2 separate regions of the Homo sapiens genome follow, and region 1 is linked to region 2. The links come from fine-mapping of genetic effects on gene expression. A gene starts in region 2. The other region holds a variant in brackets. All regions are shown on one strand. Distances are from middle to middle.

What was found. PIP is the estimated chance that this variant, and not a neighbour inherited with it, causes the effect.
Region 1: its variant is the best candidate, but not a certain one, in a credible set for the expression of CCNY-AS1 in thyroid (GTEx, PIP 0.70).

What each region holds. Positions count from the first base shown.
Region 1 is chr10:35,404,401-35,409,775 of GRCh38, reverse strand. All of the region lies in intron 1 of CCNY (cyclin Y), which reads right to left. Among named protein-coding and RNA genes, the nearest start is that of CCNY, 71 kb to the right of the region's middle. The variant T/C (reference allele first, on the strand shown) is at 2,559.
Region 2 is chr10:35,333,915-35,339,289 of GRCh38, reverse strand. CCNY-AS1 (CCNY antisense RNA 1) reads left to right here and starts at 2,866. Exons shown (of 4, transcript NR_186477.1): 1 at 2,866-3,070; 2 at 3,214-3,362. It overlaps CCNY (cyclin Y), which reads right to left and starts at 2,781. Exons shown (of 10, transcript NM_145012.6): 1 at 2,083-2,781. The coding sequence starts at 2,236. RefSeq lists a silencer at 2,416-3,155.

The DNA of each region.
Region 1 (5,375 bases), 70 kb before region 2:
CTCAACAAAATAAAACAAAACAATCACAGATTGCTTTTTTCACATAGGGGCAGGAAATCTTTACATTTTTACTTATTTTTGTTTTAACGCAAGCTCTTTGGAGTGTTTCCTATACTGTCTCTCACACATGGGAATTATCTGTAAATCACGGTTTAAATTAAGGTTTTCTTTTTAATTTTAGAATTGCATTTTTCTTTTCCCTCTCTGTTCCTCAGCCTCTCATCACTATGCCCAGACCTCCAGAGAGCACGCCTCCAGTCTTTTTTCTGTTCACAGCTGTTATTTCCCAGCTGCCTACAGTCACTTCACAATGACTCACACTTCTTGAAGTATTGGCCCTAACACAGATGCCCAGACAGCAGCTGCAGTGGCAGCACACCCTCACCACAGCTGGTACCCACACTGAACTTAGTGTGGGAGACTCTCCCAGGAACAGGATCTGAAAAAGGGCAGCAAAGGCTTTTAAGCTGTAACTGTTCTGACCTGGGCACACCCCAGCAAGTTCACTGGCTTGCAACTTGATTCCAATGGGATGACAATGGCAGATGCGAGACCTGCCTGGTAAGGCAGCTGGCAAGGCAGCTGGCCACACTGTACCACAGTCCCCAGCTTGGATTAGGATCAGGAGCTTGACAACTCCTGGTTGCAATACACAATCTAACAGCCATTGGAGGAAAAAAAAGGCCTCCTTAATGTACTTCATTTCTTTGCCCAGTAATAAGCTATTACATAGGGTAAATCTGATTTCTGCTTTCATCTTTGCATTGGGTCAAGACAAAATAACTCTTTTTGTTTTTCTTCATAACTAGAATGAAAAAAAAAAAACAAAAACAAGAATTGAGCAGGGTAATGGGAGGAAAGAACAAAGTAGAGGCATTTATGATGAAATAATACAGTTTGTCTACTTGAATCCATTTCTAGCGTAAACCTCTGCTTACCCCATCTTCAACATTCTCCAGTAAAGCTAGAAATTTTTTTGTTCTTTTTCTCTTCTGATAACTTTCCCTCAACCCATCATATTACTGTCAGGCCTCTGAGCCCAAGCTAAGCCATCATATTCCCAGTGACCTGCACGTATACATCCAGATGGCCTGAAGCAACTAAAGATCCACAAAAGAAGTGAAAAGAGCCTTAACTGATGATATTCTACCATTGTGATTTGTTTCTGCCCTACCCTAACTGATCAATATACTTTGTAATCTCCCCCACCCTTAAGAAGGTTCTTCATAATCTCCCCCACCCTTAAGAAGGTTCTTTGTAATTCTCCCCGCCCTTGAGAATGTGCGAGATCCACCCCCTGCCCCCAAAACATTGCTCTTAACTCCACTGCCTATCCCAAAACCTGTAAGAACTAATGATAATCCCACCACCCTTTGCTGACTCTCTTTTCTGACTCAGCCTGCCGGCACCCAGGTGAAATAAACAGCCTTGTTGCTCACACAAAGCCTGTTTTGTGGTCTCTTCACATGCACATGTGAGACATTTGGTGCCGAAGACCCAGGTCAGCGGGACTCCTTCGGGAGACCAGTCCCCTGTCCTCACCCTCACTCCGTGAAGAGATCCACCTATGACCTCAGGTCCTCAGACTAACCAGCCCAAGGAACATCTCCCCAATTTTAGATCAGGTAAGCAGCCTCTTTTTACTCTCTTCTCCAACCTCTCTCACTATCCCTCAACCTCTTTCTCCTTTTAATCTTGGCGCCACCCTTCAATCTCTCCCTTCTCTTAATTTCAACTCCTTTCATTTTCTGGTGGAGACAAAGGAGACATATTTTATCCATTGACCCAAAACTCCAGCGCCAGTCACGGACTCGGGAAGGCAGACTTCCCTTGGTGTTTAATCATTGCGAGGACGCCTCTCTGATTATTCACCCACGTTCCACTGGTGTCTGATCTCCGTGGGGACGTCTGCCTTGGTCATTCATCCACATTCCCTTGGTGGCAAGTCAAGTGCGGAGACGCCTGCTTTGGCTGCTCCCCACCCCCCTTCTCCGTGTCTCTACCCTTCTCTTTAAACTTGCCTCCTTCACTATGGGCAACCTTCCACCCTCCACTCCTCCTTCTTCTCCCTTAGCCTGTGTTCTCAAGAACTTAAAACCTCTTCAACTCTCACCTGACCTAAAATCTAAGCGTCTTATTTTCTTCTGCAATGCCGCTTGACCCCAATACAAACTCGACAGTGGTTCCAAATAGCCAGAAAACGGCACTTTCGATTTTTCCATCCTACAAGATCTAAATAATTCTTGTCGTAAAATGGGCAAACGGTCTGAGGTGCCTGATGTCCAGGCATTCTTTTACACACTGGTCCCTCCCTAGTCTCTGCTCCCAATGAGAGTCGTCCCAAATCTTTCTTCTTTCTCTCCTGTCTGTTCCTTCAGTCCTAACCCCAAGCGTCTCTGAGTCTTTTGAATCTTCCTTTTCTAGGGACCCATCTGACCTCTCTCCCCTCCTCCCCAGGCTGCTCCTTGCCAGGCCAAGCCAGGTCCCAATTCTTCCTCAGCCTCTGCTTCCCCACCCTATAATCCTTCTATCACCTCCCTTCCCCACACCCAGTCTGG[T/C]TTACAGTTTCGTTCCATGACTAGCCCTCCCCGACCTGCCCAACAATTTCCTCTTAAAGAGGTGGCTGGAGCTAAAGGCATAATCAAGGTTAATGCTCCTTTTTTCTTTATCTGACCTCTCCCAAATCAGTTAGCATTTAGGTTCTTTTTCATCAAATACAAAAACTCAACCCAATTCAAGGCCTGTTTGACAACAACCCTTAGACGCTTTACCACCCTAGACCCAGAGGGGCCAGAAGGCTGCCTTATTTTCAATATGCATTTTATTACCCAATCCGCTCCCGACATTAGAAAAAGCTCCAAAAAGCCCCTCTGCCTGGCCGGCCGCCCCGACGGGGACGGAGGTGGGGGGGGGTCAGCCCCCCGCCCGGCCAGCCGCCCCATCCGGGAGGTGAGGGGCGCCTCTGCCTGGCCGCCCCTACTGGGAAGTGAGGAGCCCCTCTGCCCGGCCACCACCCCGTCTGGGAGGTGCGCCCAACAGCTCATTGAGAACAGGCCATGATGACAGTGGCAGTTTTGTGGAATAGAAAGGGGGGAAAGGTGGGGAAAAGACTGAGAAATCGGATGGTTGCCGTGTCTGTGTAGAAAGAGGTAGACATGGGAGACTTTTCATTTTGTTCTGTACTAAGAAAAGTTCTTCTGCCTTGGGATCCTGTTGATCTGTGACCTTACCCCCAACCCTGTGCTCTCTGAAACATGTGCTGTGTCCACTCAGGGTTAAATGGATTAAGGGCGGTGCAAGATGTGCTTTGTTAAACAGACGCTTGAAGGCAGCATGCTCGTTGAGAGTCATCACCACTCCCTAGTCTCAAGTGCCCAGGGACACAAACACTGCGGAAGGCCACAGGGTCCTCTGCCTAGGAAAACCAGAGACCTTTGTTCACTTGTTTGTCTGCTGACCTTCCCTCCACTATTGTCCTGTGACCCTGCCAAATCCCCCTCTACAAGAAACACCCAAGAATGATCAATAAAAAAATAAATAAATAAATAAATAAATAAATAAATAAATAAATAAAATAAAAAAGAAAAAAAAAAAGAAAAAGCTCCAAAAATTAGACTCTGGCCCTCAAACCCCACAACAGGACTTAATTAACCTCGCTTTCAAGGTGTACAGTAATAGAGTAATGGCAGCCAAGTAGCAATGTATTTCTGAGGTGCAATTCCTTGCCTCCACTGTGAGACAAACCCCAGCCACATCTCCAGCACACAAGAACTCCAAACGCCTGAACCACAGTTGCCAGGGGTTCCTCTAGAACTTCCTCCCCCAGGATCTTGCTTCAAGTGCCGGAAATCTGGCCACTGGGCCAAGGAATGCCCGCAGCCCGGGATTCCTCCTAAACCGTGTCCCATCTGTGCAGGACCCCACTGGAAACTGGACTGTCCAACTGGCCCAAGGCTCTGATTGACTCCTTCCCAGATCTTCTCGGCTTAGTGGCTGAAGACTGACACTGCCCAATAGCCTCGGAAGCCCCCTGGACCATGATGGAGGCCAAGCTTCGGGTAACTCTTACAGTGGAGGGTAAATCCGTCCCCTTCTTAATCATTATGGAGGCTACTCACTCCACATTACCTTATTTTCAAGGGCCTGTTTCCCTTGCCTCCATAACTGTTGTGGGTATTGACGGCCAGGCTTCTAAACCCCTTAAAACTCCCCAATTCTGGTGCCAACTTGGACAATATTCTTTTATGCACTCCTTTTTAGTTATCCCCACCTGCCCGGCTCCCTTATTAGGTCGAGACTTTTAACTACATTATCTGCTTCCCTGATTATTCCTGGGCTACAGCTGTACCTCACTGCCACCTTTTGCCCCAGTTCAAAGCCTCCTTCACATCCTCTCCTTGTATCTCCCCTTCTTAGTCCACAAGCATAGGACACCTCTACTCCCTCCTTGACAACAAATGATGCACCCTTTACCATCCCATTAAAACCTAATCACCCTTATCCTGCTCAATGCCAATATCCCATCCCACAGCATGCTTTAAAAGGATTAAAACCTGTTGTCACTTGCCTGTTACAGCATGGCCTTTTAAAGCCTGTAAACTCTCCTTACAATTCCCCTGTTTTACCTGTCCAAAAACCAGACAAGGCTTTTACAGGTTAGTTCAGGATCTGCACCTTATCAACTAAATTGTCTTGCCTATCCACCCAGTGGTGCCAAAGTCATATACTCTCCTATCCTCAATACCTCCCTCCACAACCCCTCCATAACTCATTATTCTGTTCTGGATCTCAAACATGCTTTCTTTACTATTCCTTTGCACCCTTCATACCAGCCTCTCTTCGCTTTCACTTGGACTGACCCTGATACCCATCAGGCTCAGCAAATTACCTGGGCTGTACTGCTGCAAGGCTTCGTGGACAGCCCCTACTACTTCAGTCAAGCCCAAATTTCTTCCTCATCCATTACCTATCTTGACATATTTCTTCATTAAAACATACGTGTTCTCCCTGCTGATTGTGTCCAACTAATCTCCCAAACCCCAACCCCTTCCACAAAACAACAACTCCTTTCCTTCCTGGGCATGTTTGGATACTTTCACCTTTAGATAGCCTCGGAAGCCCCCTGGACCATCACGGATGCCAAGCTTTGGGTAACTCTTACAGTGGAAGGTAAATCCGTCCCCTTCTTAATCAATAAGGAGACTACTCACTCCACATTACCTTATTTTCAAGGGCCTGTTTCCCTTGCCTCCATAACTGTTGTGGGTATTGACGGCCATCCTAACAAAACCATTATATAAACTCACAAAACCAAACCTAGATGACTCCATAGATCCTAAATCCTTTCACCACTCCTCTTTCTGTTCCTTAAAAAC
Region 2 (5,375 bases):
AATCACCTTGGAGAGATTTAAACATATTAATGGCAATGTCCAGTACTAGATTTCTGGTTTAACTGAAACCAATGTTGAGAACTGCTGGCTGGGTCAATGCTAGAAGTATTATTTATTGAATTTGAGAGACAGAAGGTGAATTAATATTTCGGGGTTTAAACTAGCATAATCATATGAACTGGGATCTGGGATGAGAGGGCACTCCACAGCCTAGATTGGAAACCTGCCCTATACTCTCTCAAACTATCCTGAATCTGCAAAAGAGTCTTCCAAACATTCTCTCAAAAATTCCTGATGACTGAAACTTAAGATTTCTTTGAAATGAAAGAACACACAATATCATTTCACTGTACTCTGGCAAAATTGTACTGAGCCTTAGTGCCAAATACCTGGTTACACTTATTTTTTCCACCTTATTTCCTTACAATAGTCTATAATAACTGTATGCAGCCTGGCTCTAAGAAATGTAAATCTTCTTTTTTTTCTTTTTTGATCCATCATTCAAAACAAAGCCTCCGCTAGATACTGCACAACATAAAAAGGAAATTTACTGCACATCATAAAGAAGACATTATTTCCAAATGTTTTCGCCTGTCAACATAGTATAGGACTGGGTAATGGCTTTCTGTAATAAACTCATTCATTTATTCCTCCCTTTAAAGTACAATACTTACTGTTTATTATATGCTAGACTTTTCTTTCAGGTGCTAGAGGCTGTGAAAGTGATCAAGACCGATCTGGCCTTCATCCTTCTAGATGCCTTTAAATGCATAAATTTAAGAAGAAAGTATGGCTGTAGTTCAAAGACATCTAAGCGTATGTTTAAAATAATGGAAATCTAAAATAACAACACTAGACACGTCATATGGAACCATAATTTACTAAGCGCGTACTAGAAACCAGACGTTGTGTTACTCCCTTTATACATGGCACTCATTTAATAAAGATGCTCTCCTAAAAAGATTAAACTACCATTTAGAAGAAATTACACGAAGACAAACGAGAAAAATCTTTCCTTTAGCAAAGTTTAAATGTGGCCTTTCCACAGTGGAGAGAATCTTCCATCCTAAAGTGGACAGGAACGAATTATGAAGTTGTGTTCATTCATTCACACAAAAATTTCTTCATATTAGTTCAACCAGATTAACTATGAGAAGATGTTTGGGTTAAAAAAATCACCTTGTCATAAAAAGATACTTCCAATTTCAAATCTTTTCAGTTGAAAATTCTATAAACTATATTTTAAGCATGATGCATAAATATCCCTCTGTCGTTATCACTGAGCAACAGTGCTAATAAATATGTTGCCAAACCAATAAAATAAATAAAACATTACTGCGTGCAGTAATTAGTCTTAGCTTTTTTTCTTTTTGCAAACTCCAGACCAACCAAAAGTCACCTGAATAAATCAGAAATTCATAGGACTGCAATTCGGGCCCATGCAAAAACTGAGACTTAACCCAAAGGTGTCTGACAATCTTTTAAAGAGCATTCTCGGGAGAAGCTATTTGACTAATCCTGGAACCGCCACTCAAAAAAATCATTTTTTAAAAAAAACGGTAGAATGGGAACGGGGGAAGTGGAGTCCATTTGTAAGGTTCCGGGGAACTGACTCAACATGGTTCTCCAACTCGAGGTTGGAGACACCGGGATTCCAAAATGGGAATCCACTCACTTCGCTTTTATAGGACAAACGCGTGCACAACTTGGCTTCGGGCTGCATTCAGGTAGTGCCGGGAACCCCGAGCTCCCGGGCCGCCCCCACCCAGCTCTGGCCGCTCCATTAAGGACGAGGGCCGGCTCCTGTCACCTCGCGACCCACGCGCACACACCCGCCCTAGGCCCGCCGTGCTCGATGCCGCGGGCCTGCAAAGTTTCCGCGGCCGCTCACTTGGGGGTAACCAGCGAGGGGTACGCCCAGAGGCTGCGGGGCCCCGGGCGCCTAGGCTGCGCGGGCGAAGCCCCGGTTATGCACGGGTCGCCGAGACCGGCTGGGCAAGCAAGAGCAGCCGGGCCGCCCCGACGTTGGCTGTGCGACTGTTGCCGCGGGGGCGGGTAGGGGGCTCGGCGGGCCGCACTCACCGTCTATGTTCTCCCGGTCGCTGATGTGCTGCAGGTTGCAGCCCGTGTCCTCGCGGCTCAGGTCCGTGTCTGGCCGGTAGGACTCCAGCCGGGAGTGGGCATTCCTCCGGAGCTTGGGACTGGACGACACGCAGCACGAGGTAGTGTTCCCCATCTTCGGCGGCCCCCCGACTCCTGCTGCTATCCTGTTCTCCCAGTCCCCGGGAGCGGGGCGCGGGTGGACGCGGGGCGCGGGCGGCGGGGGCGTGTGGGGAGGCCCGCCCGCTCGCCGCCACGGGAGGGGGCGGAACGGCGGCCGGCCGCCGGGTCAGCAGCGGCGGCGGCGGCGGGGCCTCGCCATGGGCGGCGGCGGCGGCGGCGGCGACGAGCGGGCGACGGCCCCGGCTCCCCCTCGGCCGGCCTATCCGCGGCGGAGGAGCGCTCGGGTCCGCGCGACTGCGGCCGCCGCGCCTACCTCACCCCGCCGCGGCCATGGCGGGCGGCGCCGCGCAGGCCGCCTCCCCCCCGCGCTTCCCCAGTTGGTGTCCGCTTCCCCGGCGGCTGCGGCGACGGCGGCCGCCTCGGCAAGAGGTTCCGGTTCAAGCCGGGGGCACGCGTGTCCGCGCCGGACGGCGGGACTAGCCGACGAGCGGGCGGGCAGCGGGCGTGGGCGCAGCCCCCGGACTCCTCGCGGCGCGGTGCGGCGCGGCCAGGGAGGATGCTGGCGGCCCTCCCTCGCCAGCGGCGCCCGCCCTCGCCGCAGCCCCCGCCCCGCCCCGTCACCGCCCCTTCCCTCTGCCCTGGAAGCAGATCGGCGGCCGCGGGGAGGTTCGGGGCGGCGCAGCCCCGCGCGGTTGTGGGATCGCTCCCGGGGGCCGCTCCTCTCTCGGGCACTGGGGTCGCGGGAGACGTCGTCGGGAGCTCGGTTTCTGGAGGCCCTTCCCCACCCGGCCTCTGCCTCCTCCACTCCCCCGGGCTGGACGGAACGGGGCCCAGCGCGGGATGCGAGGTGCGTCCCCGGGGCCCGCAGCGGGCGGGAGCGCAGCCAGGGCCCGGTCGGGGACGCAGGCCCAGGGCGCTGAGGCTGCACCTGCCTCTCCGAAACCGGGCTGGCTCTTTTTGTCTTTTTATTTTTCTAATTTATTTTTTTAGAGGTATGATTTCGCTCTGTCGCCCAGGCTGGAGGGCAGTGGCGCAATCTCGGCTCACTGCAGCCTCGAACTCCTAGGCTGAAGCGATTCTCCCGCCTCAGCCTCCAAAGTAGCCGGTACTACAGGCGCGCGCCACCACGCCTGGCTAAGGTGTGTGTGTGTGTGTGTGTGTGTGTGTCTCCAAAGTAGCGAGGACTACGGGTGTGTGTGTGTGTGTGTGTCTCCAAAGTAGCGAGGACTACAGGCTCCCGCCACTACGCCAGGCTAAGGTAGGGTGTGTATGTGTGTTAACTTTTTGTAGAGATGGGATCTCCCTTTGTAACACGGGCGCCCGCCACTAAGCCAGGCTAAGGTGGTGAATGTGTGTGTGTGTGTGTGTTAACTTTTTGTAGAGATGGGATCTCGCTTCGTAACCCGGGCTGGTATCGAACTCCTGTCTTCAAGGAATCCTCCCGTCTGGACTCCTCCCATGGGATTACGGGCATGAGCCACGGCACCTGGCTATTTTTTTTTTCTAAGCATTTAAATAAGCTGGGGCTTGATTTGGGAGTTTTCTATTGTATTTTGAGCTTTGCCGAGGACTTGATAGTGACCTTGCTTTAAGCTGTGAAATAAATCTTGGGGTCCCAGAGCTATTTTAATATTGAATTCGCTGTGGAGTTGTTTTGAGTTCCTTGGAGGTTAACATGAGATAGAAAACTAAGTTAACACAACTCATCGACTGCCCTTGCTTTGCTTTGCTTTGCTTTTAGAATGCCATCGGGTTTTGTCATGTTGGGAACAAGTTAACTTAGGCCAGTTGACTAAGATCAAGGTATGTGAACATGCCTGGCTGGGAGAGAAGTAGAGTAAATGTTGGTTCGCATTCCCTCCCGACGCCCACAATGCCAGCCATCCCTGACTTTTCTTGCCTTTATTGGGAAGAATATAAGGTGGCAGAAACAAACTTCCCACCCTTTTTCCAAATATTTACTGAAGGAGTCTTGAGGAGAGTCTTGTGGGGTGGGGGGGTGGGGGTGGGAGCTGGGAATGTTTTTGAACTAGTTCTTGAAAAAAAAACTAGTACAATAGTACAACTGTCTTAATTTTATATATGAGGAAACTGAGGCCCAGAGATGAAATCATGCCTTGATTTATGCAGACCTCAGTACCTGTTCGTGACAAATCCAGTTACTAAAAGGTAAGAGAAGGAATAAGGGACTTGATATTTATCTAGCATCAGCAATGTGTGGACATCGTGTGAACGGCTTTATAAACATTTCATTTAATTCTCTACATCTAGCCATTTTTTAACCTGTGCTTTCCCTCCCTCTCAAAGTACTGTTTATACATTTATTAGTCCATATTTTAAACGCTCCATGCTCTCAACTGTATTAATGCTATTTGTTAGGATAAGTGGCAGATGTCCATGGAAAATAAGTGGCTGCAAAGTGGTAATGCTGACCAGATGAGAAAAGAAGTGTAAAAGGGAAGTTCTAAAGAATTAAAGCCCTGGAGAGGGTGGGTAGACAACAACAGTCCAAAATAGTGCTCTTCATTGAGGCTGTGTAGATTTTCCTGCTTCCTGGGAAAACTGGGGCATATTTACACTTGCATGTGTGTATTCAGATTGTCTGGGGCTATGGAGTTTGGGTCAGATTGCTGAACCCGTGGGAGAGAAGTTCCCTTGTTGTCTGTTGTTGTCTGTTCTGATTGCTGCTTTGTAATTTGGGCCACATATGAAAGTCAGCATCCAGTCATTGGACCATAGGTGTGTGGCATATCTACTCAGATGCATTAAGCTATTTTTATTTCATTATAAAATGTATAACATTTACATTCAAATTATGGTTTGAAGGGCTTAAGAGGAGAAAGAGACAGTGGCACTAAGGTGACAGCATGGCTGGCTGCATGCTTCCTGTCCAAGAAGGTCACTGGGCAGTGTTAACTGGGAAGAGCATCTGGAGGATGAGAGATCAGTGTAGCCACATACCCTTAACAAAGGGTGGTACAGCCTCTGGTCTGCCAGGATTTTTGTGCCCCGCCCCCCTCCCCCTCTTTCCCTATCTCCTCTTTGACATTTCCACCATATTCCCCTTAGGTATGTACCTGTTTGGACTTTAATTTAGAGTGTAACTTTTGGTCAAGAATCCTGGAGAGAAAAGACGGGTACTAAAGCCTCGC